2 separate regions of the Homo sapiens genome follow, and region 2 is linked to region 1. A link means that fine-mapping ties the variant in region 1 to the expression of a gene that starts in the linked region. Tissue or cell type: sun-exposed skin. Region 1 holds a variant in brackets; the other region holds the start of a gene. All regions are shown on one strand. Distances are between the middles of the regions.

Evidence for each region. PIP is the estimated chance that this variant, and not a neighbour inherited with it, causes the effect.
Region 2: ZNF697 starts here. The variant in region 1 is fine-mapped to the expression of ZNF697 in sun-exposed skin (GTEx, PIP 0.98).

Annotation. Positions count from the first base shown.
Region 1 is chr1:119,604,625-119,612,807 of GRCh38, forward strand. It overlaps the pseudogene HSD3BP5. Among named protein-coding and RNA genes, the nearest start is that of LINC00622, 9.4 kb to the left of the region's middle. RefSeq lists an enhancer at 89-1,288. The variant T/C (reference allele first, on the strand shown) is at 3,702.
Region 2 is chr1:119,644,762-119,652,944 of GRCh38, forward strand. ZNF697 (zinc finger protein 697) reads right to left here and starts at 3,505. Exons shown (of 3, transcript NM_001080470.2): 1 at 2,930-3,505. It overlaps LOC124904389 (a long non-coding RNA gene), which reads left to right and starts at 3,555. Exons shown (of 2, transcript XR_007066506.1): 1 at 3,555-3,626; 2 at 3,963-4,215. RefSeq lists silencers at 2,922-3,085, 3,383-3,442 and enhancers at 3,501-4,341, 3,513-3,582.

The DNA of each region.
Region 1 (8,183 bases):
GGCTAATTTTTGTGTTTTTAGTAGAGACGGGGTTTCACGAGGCTGTCCAGGCTGGTCTTGACCTCCTGGGTGCAAGCAATCTGCCCACCTCAGCCTCCCAAAGTGCTGGAATTACAGGTGTCAGCCACCATGCTCTGCCTGTTTCTCTACTTATTCCAAATATAAATAAGGGATTTTCTTTGACATGGTGCTGGAGACCCAAAATCATGATCCCGCATCACCAGCAGAATTAAATTCAAATTTTCCCTCTTATACCCAACTCTCCACAGTCACCTTACTCTCTTTAAATATTTTAGTGAGTCTCCCATGACTCTAGAAATGCTTATATTCCAAGCACACCTGACAGCTCATTGCTCAGATTACTTTTCTTAAATGAGATGGGGTAGAAACAGATGTTTGCTCTTTCCCAATAAATTGCTACATATTCTGACTTCTGTGTCCCTGTTTACTTGTTCCTTCCATGGAATGTACACCCTCCACTCCAACACCCTGACTCTAGCCATCCTCGAACATCTATGTAACAACATCTTTATCAGTTTCAGAAATCGTTTCAGAAATCGTTCTGATAACCTGACCGGTGTTCACACAGAGCTCCAGAACAAGACCAAGCTGACGGTGCTGGAAGGAGACATTCTGGATGAGTCATGCCTGAAGAGAGCCTGCCAGGACATGTCGGTCATCATCCACACCACCTCCATCATAGACATCATCGGTGTCACTCACAGAGAGTCCATCATGAACATCAATGTGAAACGTACAGTAGCCTGGGGAGGAGATGAAGCAAGGTGGGGAATTAAGGATCACAAAGAAGGACAGGAAGGGAAAAGAAGTCTCTCCACTGAACACCTGCTATGCTCTGGACCAAGTGTCTTTGCTGATCACTACCAACTGGGGGAGTTCAAAGCTGCTATCTTCAGTTTTTTACATGAGGAAACCAGTGCTACAGATGGCAAGTAACTTGTCCAAGGCCCCCCCAGGTAAGTAAGTAAATAGGAGAGTTAGACTTTAAACTCACCCCTGTGTGACTCCAAAGGCTGTGGACACTCTTTCTATAGTGGCTTCAATCAAAAGTCAACTAAATTCCAACTTCAGACTCTTGATATCCCTCTATGGGACAGAATCAAACCTTCCAGGTGCCACCATAGTCATCATTGTGCTACACACAAGTCACCTTGTGCGTAGGCTTATGATAATGAAATGGGAAAAATTCCCTCATCCCCCTCACCAGGCATGCAATGAGGGTGTGGCTTGCTTCTTCAATGCCTCACTGCTCAAACCTCTGTGGGAGCATAGAGACAGGCAGGCTGTGGGACTCCGACACCATAGCAGTGTCTGGGGTGAATGTTTACAGCTCCTGAAGCCTCAGTGGGTGTGTGTTACATGGTGCTCTTTTAGTCTTGCTCTTTTAGTTTTGACATCTACAGGCGGCTTGTTTTAACCAGCTAAATTAGACCCTCTACCTTGTCGGAAGGTCAGAGGGCTTTCTGTATCCTGGGTTCTTGTTTTGGTTACCAGAGAAATTAGATCACACCTGGGCTTGGAGAATGAGTGCCAGGTTTTGTTGAGTGAAGGTAGCTCTCAGCAGCTGGGGGATGCCAGAAGGGGAGGGTTTTCCCATGGAGTTGGCCGTTCAACTGCCCAACTCTTCTCCGACCATCCCAGGGAAACTCCACATCATTCTGCTGGGCGGTGTGTTCCTCCCAACGTCCAGCTGCCCATGTGTTCCTCTGCTGATGTGTGCCTCCACTGATGTGCCCCTCCTGACATCCAGCCCCTTCTATCTTCTTCTGCCAATCTGCTCCTCTCATTGTCAGGCAGTTTGTGTGTGTCCTGCTAGGGTCTTGGGGGTTTTATAGGCAGAGAATTGGGGCATGGCAGGCCAGGGTGGTCTTGGGAAATGCAACATTTGGGCAGAAAATGTTTGTCCTCATCTAGGTCCCTGGGAGTAGAGCCATAGCCAGGGACCACACCCTCCTTCACCCAGCACTTCCCTTCCCCCCTCCCATATCATTTAAAGGGACCATGCTCTTCCCTTCCCAGCACTCCCATATCAAGAACATTCAGAGCCCTCCTGCCCACCTCAAAGAAGTTCTCTCGAGAGAATTAGTAAAGTTGGTCCACAGAGGTCTGTCAGGACTGAATTATCCAGCACATGCTTTCTCACAATATTTTCTTAAGAAAAAGGGTTTCCCAGTGTCCAGAATACACAGTCTCTTCAGCTCGCCACAGGGCCTGCTATTACAGAGCCATTCCCAGCCAGGTGTCCAACATGCACCTTCATTCAATCCTCATCCCTTAAAGTCTTGGTGGTCTTTCCGAATTGCAGCTTTCCAAACTACTTTAAATTCAGACACATTCCCTTAAGGAATCTCGTCATGCAGTCTCACCCTCTGATTCCCAGAGCCCAGTCTCTTCAGCACCACAGCACCCCACCACTGGCCTAGCCCTCCACATTCAGTCTACTCTGACACCTTTTCTAAAGCAACTAATTGCTTTTGGGTCTCCAGCACCATCTCAAAAAAAAAAAACCTTTCCAGTTTCTACTTACGCATACCTTTAAGTACCTCTACAGTGTGAGGAGGGTGTTAAGAGTAACCAGTGTTTCATTTGAATTATTAACTCTCCACAGCTCCCAACAACAAGAAAGGTAAAATGACAGGGGAAGTGTTAGAGGCATCTGTTTCCTAAACCATTATCACTCCAAGACTTAGAAAATATTTCACAATGTTGGTCATTTCCCCCTTGAAGGTAAACTACTTCCGCATTTTCTCTGCCACCAGATTAATTGTTGAAAACATGAGGCTGTCTCTCCAGAAACTCAAATTCCACAGAGACTTTAAACAGGGCCAAGAATAAAAAAAAATAAGAAAAAATAATAATCCTTTGCCTAGGAAATTCCTTCCTTCTTCAAGGGAAGGCACTCCGAACACCTCCATGAGCTACACTTCCACACAGCTCAGGGGAGGCGGCAAGGTCCTCCCAGTACAGGTGTTACCAGCAGAGGGCACACTCCTCTCCCCAGTCCTCCACCAGGCTCCACAGGAAACGCCAGGGCAGGGTTTAAAGGAAGGTTTATCACCCCGACTTTACATAACCAGGTAAACAGAGTCACAGCCAGAATTGGAAGCAGCTTTCCCAGGGAATGCACAATCAGGAAAAGAGTGTGGGTTTCCAGCATCTCCCCACAAGCCACTGTTCGCTCAATGACTCCAGGAATGGTCCTGGTGACAAAGTTTTACCAGTCCACTCAAAATGAGAAAAATACCAGCAATTGCATGTATATTCAACAGTATATTTAAGAGTGTATATTGCTTATATACAACTGTATATGGGTGTCTGTGTGTGTGATGTAAATTCTTCTACTGCCCTTTTTTGCCAAAGAACCAGGACTGTCCATATTCTCAGAGTATATCTTCCTGATTTTTTAGTTTTTCAATAATCTGCCTTTAATGGTATTGATGTCACATTATAATTTTCAACATCCTTACTTGGCAAAATATAAAGTGATAACCCTAGGTCCTTTGCCAAAATTAAACTACACACACACACACACACACAAAAACACACACACACATCCAAACACCCAAAAGTCTAGAAATTCTTGCTCTCCAGAATCCATATGTCAGTTTCTTTTCATTTTGGTGTTTTTCCTATGGCTGTAGCATGGCCCAGTCTCAGTCAGAGCCACAAAAGAATGTACC[T/C]GAGTCTGTTATAACCACTGCACTTGGGAGTGGAGATATGTGCACGTGGTTGGGGCCCCTTAGGGATATTTCCTGACACTGACAGAATGCTTTTCGTTGGTAGGTACCCAGCTTCTGTTGGAGGCCTGTGTCCAAGCTACAGTGCCAGTCTTCATCTACACCAGTACCCCAGAGGTAGCCGGGCCCAATTCCTACAAGGAAATCATCCAGAACAGTCACGAAGAAGAGCCTCTGGAAAACACATGGTACGCTCCATACCCACACAGCAAAAAGCTTGCTGAGAAGGCTGTGCTGGCGGCTAATGGGTGGACTCTGAAAAACGGTGGCACCTTGTACACTTGTGCCTTAAGACCAATGTTTATCTATGGGGAAGGAAGCCCAATCCTTTCTGCCGGTATAAATGAGGCCCTAAACAACCATGGGATCCTGTCAAGTTTCAGCAAGTTCTCCAGAGTCAACCCAGTCTATATTGGAAACATGGCCTGGGCCCACATTCTGGCCTTGAGGCCCTGCGGGAGCCCAAGAAGGCCCCAAGTGTCCGAGGACAGTTCTACTACATCTCAGATGACATGCCTCACCAAAGCTATGATAACCTTAATTACATCCTGAGCAAAGAGTTCGGCCTCTGCCTTGATTCTAGATGGAGCCTTCCTTTATCTCTGATGTACTGGATTGGCTTCCTGCTGGAAATAGTGAGCTTCCTGCTGAGGCCAATTTACACCTATCGACACCCTTCAACCACCACAGAGTGACATTGTCAAATAGCGTGTTCACCTTCTCTTACAAGAAGGCTCAGCAAGATCTGGCATATAAGCCACTTTACAGCTGGGAGGAAGCCAAGAAGAATGTACCTGAGTCTGTTAGAACCGTGGAGTGGGTTTCCCTTGTGGACTGGCACAAGGAGACCGTGAAGTCCAAGACTCAGCGATTTAAGGATGACAGAGATGTGCATGTGGGTATTGTTAGGTGATGTCATCAAGCTCCATCCTCCTGGCTTCATACAGAAGGTGACAATGGCACAAGCCCAGGTCCTGTTGTCTCCCTTTCACACAATGCCCAACTTATTGTCTTCCTCATGTCATCAAAACCTGCCCATTCCCTGGCTCAACCAGGAGCTTTCTGTCCTAATCATATACCAGAGGAAATACAATGTGATTTGCTTTTTCCAAATCTCAGTGGCTCATTCTGAACAATTGTGGTCTCTCTCTCTTTTTTTTTTTTTCCTTTGAGACAGAGTCTGGCTCTGTCCCCCAGGCTGGAGTGCAGTGGCGCAATCTCTGCTCACTGCAAGCTCCGCCTCCCAGGTTCACACCATTCTCCTGCCTCAGCCCCCCCGAGCAGCTGGGACTACAGGCACCTGCCACCACGCCCAGCTAATTTTTTGTATTTTTAGTAGAGACGGGGTTTCACCGTGTTAGCCAGGATGGTATCAATCTCCTGACCTCGTGGTCTGCCTGCCTCGGCCTCCCAAAGTGCTGGGATTACAGGCGTGAGCCACCGCGCCCGGCTTGTGGTCTCTTTTAACTTGAGGGTCGCTTTTAACTACTAGAGCTCCATTTCTCCTCTTAAATGAGAAAGGATTTCATTTCTTTTCTTTTAAATCTCCTATTTCTTCACGCAGTTCAATGTAAAGAGCAATAAATGTTTTAATGCCTAACCTGGAGGGAGGCGTGGTTTCTGTTAATACATACTTTCCTTGTTCCTTTTCATTTCCAGGTATCACCATCTTTTACCTAGGAGAGTAGCATGGAGCTGGGGATGAGGGGTGGGCAGAGTAGTGGGAGGGTCAGGAAGGGCGATGAAGACTGAATAAGCTCTACTATGTTTCAGGCGTGTACAACATGACCTACATATGACATATATTCCCTCACTGAATACTCATCAGAAACCTATCACGAGGGGTGACTATTCCCATTTTACCGGTGAGGAAACTTGTTCACAGTCACACTAACTGATTAATGGCTAGGCCTTCTAAAAGGCAGTTGACCTTGAAAGTCCTTATCTTTCCACGGAATCACACAGCCTGAACTGGTCTTGTCAGTGGTACAGCAGAACACTGGAGCATGGGGTGCTGATACTTTGGAGGGCCCCAGCTTTTTTGGGTTACCTCTTTCTTGCCCAGTCGCACGCAGGGGATTCTCTAGAACCCAGGAGAATCCCTGAGGGGCATCTGAAAGAGATTGCACGCCTTTCCTAATGGCCCCGAGCAGGGCTGAAAGAAACAAAAACGCATTCAGCCTCTACCAGCTTCGGTGCCAATTTCCTAGAAGGTCTCTAGAACACTCCTGGCTATATGTGTGTTGGCCATTCTGATCATACATAACCCTGCATTTCACCCTTTCAAATCACACAATGAGCCACACCATGGGTTCCTGGGCAAGTAAAGAAAACAAGTGTGAACTTCTCCCAAAATATACCTTCTACTCAGCCCAAAATTAGAAGTCTATTATCCCACATCCCCAGATTTAACTGCCTCTCTCTCTCCTTTCTCCTCTTCTTTAAATCACATACTTTCTTCCTTTATTCTTCCATATCCTTAGGCTCTTTCTTCCCTCCATCTCCTCTTTAATCACTGGTTCTCTCATTCTTCTCAATTTCCCTGAAGAGAGGAGGCCAATCAAGACAAGTTTGGGGACTTCAGTGATGACACAGTCATTAACCAATCAATGAAAACACACTCAAAAGAAACACTGTCAGGGGCGTCAGGGACAGAGTTGAACTGAAGCAGGTGAGGAGGTTGCTATGGGTCCAGAGTGTGGAGATGGAAGCTGTCTCCCTCTGGACCTTTGTGTATCACAGCCATGATGAGAGTCACATCCAACATCAAAATGACTTCTTTCTTACACAGGAAATTTACAGATCATTAATCAGTTGAATTTGATTACCACAATGGAGTTAGTTTCAGTGTTCATTCTGAAGAGAAAAGGGAACCACATTCTGGCCCAGATGAACAGGTTTCCACCACCTTCAAAACCCCAAGGAACAGATGATCAGCACTAGCATCAGGGGCGAGTGGCTCCAGGCAGTGGGGTAAGGTGAAAAATGCAACACCCCTCCTTCCCCAGCCACCGCACAAAATGCAAGAGCCAGCATCTCTCCAGCTCTTGTAAGGCGTGCGCACGATCCATATGTTAATGCCAAGTACCACGGGAATCAACGGAGGGTGGTGGAATCAGGGACAAGAGCCCTTCCCCTGGTTTTTCAGCCTAGTGAAACCCTACACTTAGGAAACCACCAGGGCAATTTTCACAGGGAAATGAAGGAAAATGACAGATCTCCGACGGGCAGCGAGGGGAGTTCAAAGAAAGAGACGAGGGGGCCGGATGAGTCAACAGTCTCAACTGAACAAGCACAAACGCCTCGCAGTGTTGTGGCCAACAAAATTTGCCATCCCTTCTTACACCTGAGAGTGCCAAGCAGGTAAAGCTCCTGCACCAAGCCCCGCTGCACCTCACGTGGTGCACCACACGGGGGCAGCAAAGGCTAAGAGGGAAGAACAAGGAAGCCTGACCTGGCCGGGATTTTTGGGTCCTTTTTCTCCACCTGGGTGGCTCTGCAGGGTACCTGACAAAGGATTGAATAAAAGCACAGGCAAATGCTCAACCACCGGCTTAAGGGCTAGGTGTATATGAGTACTGAGAATGGAGCTGAGCCGAAGTCACTGGGAAAAGCCACAGGAGCCAGTGGGGCTTGAATGAGGCCTTGAATTCCTCAGTCCAGGCAGTGGGCACAGACCGAGCAGTGGTGCAGAGGAGGATGGAGGGGCATGAGGAGGCCCCTCGCCTTCTGGAAAGCATGTACAGAGGGCAGATGAGAGAGCTCGGGTGCCAGACTAAGCCACAGACTAGACAGGCAGGTTCCAAGGGCCAGGATGGGCCAGAGCCTGTGATGGACTGGTGAGAACCGGCAGGAAAGTGACCATTATGATGTGAAATCCCGTGATTTCTAAATATTAGTGACTAACTCTAAATTTGAAAAAGCAGTGTGAAGATCTGCTCCAGGAGAGGGATGTGTGGGCTAGTGTTCCAACTGTATGTGCAATAATTTATATCTTAAAAAGTGGGTGGCGAGGTGTCAGCAGCAAATCTATTCATTCTTGGCGATAAGTCCCAAATATACATTATTATATCATACTCTCAGCTTTCCTGTATGTTTAACATAGGTTATAATTTTTTAATAAATTAAATTTGGTGGGGAACAAATATGCAAACTAAGAAAACACACTCACAGCCTGGCCCCAGGATTAAGGCCTCCGATTTTCCACTTCTGCTCCCAGTCTAGTGGTCCAGTGCGGGAGATAAAATAGGAGACGTGTTAGGTGCAGTGCACAGTAAATGTGAAGAGTGCCATAAGAAAGGAAAATGCTTCCGGGAGATCCATTCCCATAGGGGATTCATGGAGTCCTTGCATTTGGGCTAAATATCAGAAGATGGGTAGGATTTCAACAGACAGGAATGTGAGGGAAAGTATTCCAGGTGGAGA
Region 2 (8,183 bases), 40 kb after region 1:
AAAAATTGCCCAGTTCGAGATAAGTGAGGGACTACTAAATTGTAGTGTCTTTGGGGAAAATTTGAAAGTCTGATTTGTTTTCTATTTCTATATGCTACATTTTAATCCTCATAGATTGCTTGGGCTATAAAAATAAAAATGGCATGGTAAATGTCTGGCTATAGCAGGACAGTCTTCGTAGTGCTGCTTTTCCAATGAGCACTTTGCACCTTCATAATTGAATGGAAACAGTTACCTTCTTCAGTCTAGGACAATGACAAAAATTGTTGATTATTTGCTTGGGATTAATCCACTCCATATTCTGCCTGAGAGTTTAAAATGTAGGCTGGCAAATAACTTATTCAACAAACTTTTTGTGAATGTCCTTGTACTAGACACTGTGATAGGTACTTTTAGGGTCTCTTAACCCAGGAGCAAAAGGAAAAGCCTCAGTCTGACATGTCCTAGGTGCTTTATTTTCACAATTGCAATGAATCATCACAGGTCTATGAGAAAGGCTCCATCCCATTTTCTAAAGAAAAGGCAAGATAATTAAGATTTTTTTTATCCTTTCACTCCTTCTTTGATTTATTCATGTTTTCAAATCAAACATCCTTTGGGCACTTGTTAGATATTAACACCTAAAGCAGGTGTCATTGAAATAATACAAATTACCAAGGGGTAAGATTAATTTTGACTGTAAAGTTTGGGAAGAGTTCTGTAAGGGAGCTAATCAGCTGGGCCAGGATATGTACAAAAATAATTAGGGACAGGTACAGGGATGTCCAGCAAGCATGGGGTTCAACCGGACAGTCACGGAGGTAGAAGAATGTCTGTTGCATCTTCAAGGACTGGGGAGCTATTTGCTCGAAGGATGGGTAGGTAAATTGGGGTGGCACAGGTCCAGTAAAGGAGAGGGGTAGGTAGGCACTGAATTGTGAAGAATTTTAAATCCCAAAGTAAGGAGTTACTTTTGTTGATTATATTAACTCTACATAGTGTGTGGTACTGAGAAACCTGTTAAGGGGCAGGTGAAAGAAAAGAAAAAAGAAGTAGAATCTTAGATACAAAGAAAAGCCCATATGGTACTGACATAGGTTCAAGCTCCAGACCTCTTACTGACACTGTAGCTATTTTTTTCTTTCTACATAAGCAGACAAGCTCCTTCTTGCCTTAGTTTATCATCCTTACAACCAACCTTTACCCTTTCTCCTTCCCTTCACAGGACACTAGTAATTAGGCAAAAAATGTAGATTCTGAGGAAATTCAAAGAGTTTTGGTGGGGGAGGGAGAGGAAATGTGATGCAACTCCATGAGCCTTAGTCATGCTGCTGATGTGAGGTCACTATTTACCACTTCAATCCAGCCGCATCAATCCAGCCGGTTCTTCTGTCTGACTAGCATCCATTTACCCCTCTATCCCAGTAGTTCTGAAAAGCCATCTATGTGTTCCTTTGTGTAATGTAAAGGGCAGCCTGACTTCATATTTATGATCTTGTTCAATAGGATGCCATCTTATTCTCTGTTGGGCATGGCTGAACTTTTGACATCAACTTTCCCTTAACAACAACCCCCACTTCCAACACACACACACACACACACACACACACACACACACACACACGGCCAATATGTTCTAACTAGAAATCATCTAAATTCACAGAGCCTCTTCCCTTCACTTCATTATCCTCATGGCCTCATCCTAAACAACTCGGTTTTTTTTCTCGATTCCATTCTTTATCTCAGTTCAAATGCCTCATCTCTCCCAAAGAAGCTAAGGAAGAAATGTTTTGTTTCACCTCGAAAGCCATTTATATCAGGCTCAGGGCTCTCTCCATGTCCTACAGCATCATTCTTTCGACCATGAGCCTTGCATACTCCTGCCTGGCCATATAAGTGGCATTCTTAAAGGTTCATTTGGTTCCTCAAACGTATTCCACATTAAATAATATCCACATGTTGGCTTGTTGAGAGAAGAAGGTAAACAGTTGGGGGCATCAACAAAAAATCAGGTGAGGGGAGAAAGGAGAGATAGTGAGTGTGGCCCCTTAGGCATGCTGAGTTCAGTTACAACAGTCACACTTGGACTGTATTCAAAGTTGCCCACTCATCCACCACAGCTACTCAAAGACATTTAACTCGCTAGCCATTATCCAACCGCATTTACCAGACGCTCAGTCTTGAGGGAGGAGGGTAACGCAGTAGGGGATGCGGAGTATTGGTGTCATCCTACAGGTTAAGGACAAACATGCCCACTACAAGGACAGGGATACATCACCAACTTCAATTCAGCCCAGGGTTCATGTAGTAAGGGGTGGGTGATTCACTCCTGTGGGGGAGGCAGGGCGGGGGCGGTTGGGGGAGGCGGTTAGGAAAAAGGAAAATCGTGGAAAGTCCCAGAGGAAGTGGTAGTCAGTTCCCGATGCATGGCCATAATGTACATTGGCCATAAGGTACACTCAGCGCCTCTGTGTCGCTGCTCCCCCTCAACCTTTTACTCACCCACTCCTCCCAACACGCGCCTCACCCGTGCCTCCATGCACAATCCTGAGCCTCGGCATCCCCGCGAGGTGCAGGTTCCAGCTTTGCCCACCACCCCACCACCTACCTACATGGACACGTGTGGTTGGAATGCCTCCCGGGGCTAGACGGCCACCCCTCTTGGGCTGCGAGCTGCTGCCCATCTCTCCACCCACCCGTCCTTATTGTGTCATTTGCCCGGTCTGATGGCAGCCCCAAAGCCGCTCATTTGAGTGGGCTAGAATGGAGAAGAGAGGAAAAGGGAGGCACACATTTCATTCACTAGGACCCAAGATGACCTGCCGCCTCTCTCCTGCCCTTCTCGGAGCCCCCCACCCTCCCTTAGCCCCAGTGGGGCTGGAGGCACGAACAGACAAGGCAAGGGGAGCGCAGTCCGTCAAGGTCCACAGCTGCACACAAAGCCCTTCACCTTCTCCTTGCCTTCCAAGCTCCTCCCTGGGCTTGGTTTCTCCGAGGGTCTCTGATGCCCCCTTCGGTGGTCGGCGGGACGGTCCTATTCCCTCTTGCATCGCTGTCTCCTCCCTCAAGTCTCAGCCTCCTCCTCCCCGCCCCTCGCCACATACCCCTGAGGGAGCTCAGTCCTGGCTTTGGGGGCGCGAGAGCACCCCATAAGCCCGGGGCCCTGCGCCCCAGGGGAGCGGACAACGGTCCACTTTACGAGGCACAACTTCGCCCAGCCGTTCCGCCACCGCACTCGAACACACACCCCATCCCCGCAGCGGTCGGGTCTGGTCCCGATCAGCCCCATCCCCGGGAGGCGGTTGAGCCCAGCCACAGCCACGCTCCTACCTGCGAGGCGGCTGGCGCGGCGAGGAGCTAGGGCACCGAGCGCCCCGGCCCGAGCCCCGCACCGCAGCGCGTCTGCCCTTGTGCGGCGGCGGCGGCTGCAGCGGCCGCTGGGTGGCCCGCTGGCTGGCTGGTTGGCTGGCTGGCTGGCTGGCTGGCTGGCTGGCTCGCTGGCTGGCTGCCCGGCTGACTCCTCACTGGGGCTTCCTGTAGGGCTGGACAAAGGACATTTCCTGGGAGGAGCGGGAGAATGTTCCCAGCATGCCTCGATTTGTAGTTCCCGGGGACTTCCTGCCACCGCAGCAGCGGGCGCCCTGGAGGTAGCTCGGGCCAGGCTAGGACTCCGGGACAGGAGGAAAGGCGCTCGCTGCTTCTCTAAGCGCTGTGGGGAAGGGAGCGGCCGGCGGGTCTTGCCCCACGCCCCGCCCCGCGGCGCTCAAGGAGCCCGCTGTCCCGGAGCACGCGAGATCCCAGCGCTGCACTCCGAGCTCGCGGCACCGGTTGCGGGCAGCCGGTGGGACGCTGCCGCTGAGCTGTCCCATGGTTCGGGAGGGCTCTGCGGTGGGAGAGGCCTTTTCTTTAAAAACTGGGAAGTTTGTGGTGGGTTCGCTTTTTAAAAATTAATCTAAAAACACAAAATCTATCTTTTAAAATAGATTTTCTTTTTGTCTTTTACGCCGTTGACATCCTGCTGGGGGCCGATTAAAGAACTTGATTGCTCACCAGGAATTCAGGTTCCTTAAGATCTTGGCGCTTCATCTTTAAAACCATACAGAGCTGATTGTTTCCAGATCCCGACCCGGTGACATTCCTCCCTCATTGTTGACCTTGTCCCAAACATCTTTTCAAGAAAAGCAATTAAATTGAGATTGAAAATAAATTACGTAAATTAAATATTAGACGTGAAAACCTGTGTGCTGCTGAATTAGGAAAGTGCTGGACTTTCTGCGTATCTTTCCTTCATTAACCTTTAGGATTCAGCTTCTTGGTCCCATAAAACAGATGTGCTGGCCACTGTATATTGAGTGTGTGTATTTCGGGAGTGGAAGGGTGAGGAGAAGAGGACATTGGCTACAAGAGAGGAACTCTACTTCCAGCCTAGCAAGAGTCTATGATGCCCTGCACATGTTTTTGTCTATTTCTGGGACCACAGACTCAGGACCCTTAGAAAATCAAGGAAGGACCACATAGAGACTAAATGACTAAAAGCTATATTCTCTCCTGGAGCATGAGCAGAAAGTAATAAACTGAACTAGGAAAGGACAAGTTCTAGGATGCTCTAGAATGTGTTTGAAAAGTAATCAGATAGAAAAGTCTCTGGGAGGCCGGGCGCGGTGGCTCACGCCTGTAATCCCAGCACTTTGGGAGGCCGAGGCGGGCGTACTACGAGGTCAGGAGATGGAGACCATCCTGGCTAATACGGTGAAACCCCGTCTCTACTAAAAAAAAAAACACCAAAAATTAGCCGGGCGTGGTGGCGGGCACCTGTAGTCCCAGCTACTCGGGAGGCTGAGGCAGGAGACTGGAATGAACCTGGGAGGCAGACCTTGCAGTGAGCTGAGATCATGTCAGTGCACTCCAGCCTGGGCAACAAAGTGAGACTCCGTCTCAAAAAAAAAAAAGAAAGAAAGAAAGAAAAGTCTCTGGGCTTGGTGGCTCATGCCTGTAATCACAGCACTTTGGGAGGCCGAAGTGGGAGGGTCACTTGAGCCCAGGAGTTCAAGACCAGCCTGGGCAACACAGTGAGACCCTGTTTCTACGAAAAGTAAAATAAAATAAATAGCGGGTGTGGTGGCGCGTACCTGTAGTCCCAGCTACTCGGTCGTTTAAGTGGAAGGGTCGTTTGAGACTGGGAGTTTGAGGCTGCAGTGAACCGTGATTGCACTCCAGCCTGGGTGACAGATTGAGACTCTGTTTCAAAAAATAAGGTCATAATTACGTGTCACTTCCACTTGTCATTTCACATTTTAAATCCATATGATTAAAACATTTGGGTGAAGGGTTTAGCTTACATTTAAGTAAAGTTTATGCTAGAGTTCTCTTTCTCTAGAGATCCTTAACCTCACGGATAAGATGGCCTGGATTAAAATGTAGAATTGATGAGAAGCATGCAGATAGGACTGTTCACCTCCCAAAAGTTCCTGTTGTATGCCCACCCTAAAGGTCCTGCTGTATGCCCACTCTGTTGACTGTCCACCTAAATTAATTGTGCTGTGATCCTTGCATTTTCTGGACCCTACAAATTACTGCTCCTTCATATTCTCAACCTGGTAACATTCCAGTGAAACTAATCTCCCCATCTCCACCCCAAAGAATTGATTATTGTTTTGCAAATCAAGTAGCCTCTAATAGTGTTCAGTCTGAAAAACATGATATACTTGCTTGTAGCATTTAACATATAACATTGCCCATTGAAACTATTTTTTGCCTTGCTTTTAATACAACACACTCTCCTCCTTCTCCTACACTTCTAACTTGAGCTCAGAATAATTGAACTTTCACTCATTATTTCACGCCATTCCAAACCTGTCCCATCCTTTTGTTTCCAATCTCAGTTATTTTGTTACTTCAACAAAGTTTTGTTTAACATTTATTCATGCTAGTCTCCATGTCTGGAGTAGACATGTAACATTCAACAGTAAGATATTTTACTGAGTAACTACCAGCTATGTCTTACCCCCAAGAAGCCCACACTCCAGTTGAAAAGACAGATGTCACAAAATTACTTCACAGTGTTTAAGGGCTATAATGCTGCCTTATACTGGGGTTCGTGTTCTGTAAAAGTGGGGCTCTTTCCATAAGCCTTCTGTTCCAGTGAGTGGCAGGAGTGGACAGGAGTGGCCAGAGGAAGGCTTGGGAGGGAGGAAATACAGACGGTAAAGAAGACATGTAGTATGTGAAATTTGGTTCTGAACAGGGTGGTAGCTGAGAAGGAAGTCGGATCAAAGGACATTCTTCTGTTTGTAGGGGTTTTATTTGTTCGGTTTTTAAGATGAGAGAGCCTTGAGGATGTTTAAATGCTGATGAGAAAAGTCTTGGAGAGAAACAAAGGGTAACAAAGAGGAACGAAAGAGGATAAGGGATTCTTATTCAACAAATACTTGTTGAATTAACTAATTCCTGCAACTTAGTGTTGAAAATGTTGAGATTGAAATGACCAAACTGCATATTCCCAGCTAAGATACGCAGAGTCTGAGACCAGAAGGAAATGGCATTTCTTTCCTCCTTGTCATATGCTCTCTCCTGCCCTTGAGGCCCTCAGGGGAAGGTGACAGACAAGTGAATGAAAGGAGAGAATGGAGGCTTCCTCCACTGTTGAAGATTAAGTCTTTTCCAAGTTGACAATAGGTTGGAAAGGCACACCACAACTTCAGGAAAGTCCAAACTTTCAAGCCTGTGGATTTTCATTTCATCTTTAAACTAAAAAAAATTTTACCCTTGCCCTTTTCTTTTTCTTCTTCACCACTTTGAGGCAAAGTAAATAATGATTCTCATCCTCATCTTTCAGAGAGTTGAGTCTGGACAGATTTGCTTACATTTTTTTAAGCTTTCAAGTATAAAATGGATGGACCTCTGTTGTTTTTCTTAACCTAGCAAGCATCCCTTTCCCTTTTTTTGGTAACAGCACCTTTGAGAAAAAACCCCATTTCCACCCTTAGGTCTTGTGGTTTAGAGAAGGGCAGAGCCCATCTTCACCTCCACTTCATTGGCAGGTAGTGATCAAGACCCGCCAATTAGCCAATTCAGTGTTGTATGAGGGATAAGCTATTAAAGGAAACAAAGCTGAGAAAAGGGGTGTGGGAAGGGATGTATGCATAAGCAAATTTTTATGACTTGTTTGATCATGCCTGAAGCCAAGGTACCCTTAGACTTTTTAGTTACATGAGCCAAAACATTCCCTTCTGGGCTTAAGCTATTTTGGGTTAAGTTCTATCTCTTGCAGCCAAAAGAGTTCTATATAGCTGGAAGTGGGATGCTGTAGTGCAGATCCTTAAATGTAAAATTGGCTGAGTTGAGAAATGGTGAAAGTAGGAAAGATCCCTCTGTGCCAGGCTAGAGAACTGGAAATTCTTGTGATATGGTAGCCAGGAAACTGAGTGAGAGGTCTCAGACCCCAGCATTTCCAGGGTGGAGTTTGAGAGGTCTTGATTGACAAATGTCAGGGTTTTAGAGAGTTTGGTCTACTTATAGTTTTTATAAATGTTCCAAAGAAAAAGCCATGCTAATGTTGAAACTGGCCTATGTAGTAGCAGAGAGGAAAAAATTACAGTGTGATTAAAAGATTCCCCTTCTACCAGTAGCCAGCAAACCCAAATGGTCTGGAGTCAGATATATTGAGCCATGCCACGTTAGAAAACTAAAATCCTCTGCCTCTTACACAGTGACAGCAAAGGCATAAGTAAAAAACTGATAATAGACTGTCTCCTGAGTCTACATCAAACTCCTCCTGCTGTGCTGTTCCTGCCAGAGGAAGGGAAGAATTAACCCCATTTTAATTGGGTGACCATATCATTTCTTATCAAAATGGGACAATTCTGAGTGTGAGTATGGGTGCTATTAATAATTATACCTAGGTGACAGCTCTAAAGCAGGTCACCCTAATTAAAGAGCTATCTACTAGGACACCATCTTGCATCAAAAGGCCACTCCATTAGTCCTCCTCATCTGCAGATAGTTATTTCAAGTTGCCCTAGGCAGAGGCCAAGATGGTGGCTGTTAAACTGAAGACTGTTAAAATGAGTCATCTCTAAGGCTTTTCCTTAAAAGACAGAAACTCCCAGGACAGGGTCTAGAGCGTAGATAGACTCCATACCTCTGAAATACAAGAGAAGGCGGGGGGTGGCTAAAACAATTCGGTCCCAAGAACGGGAATCCTT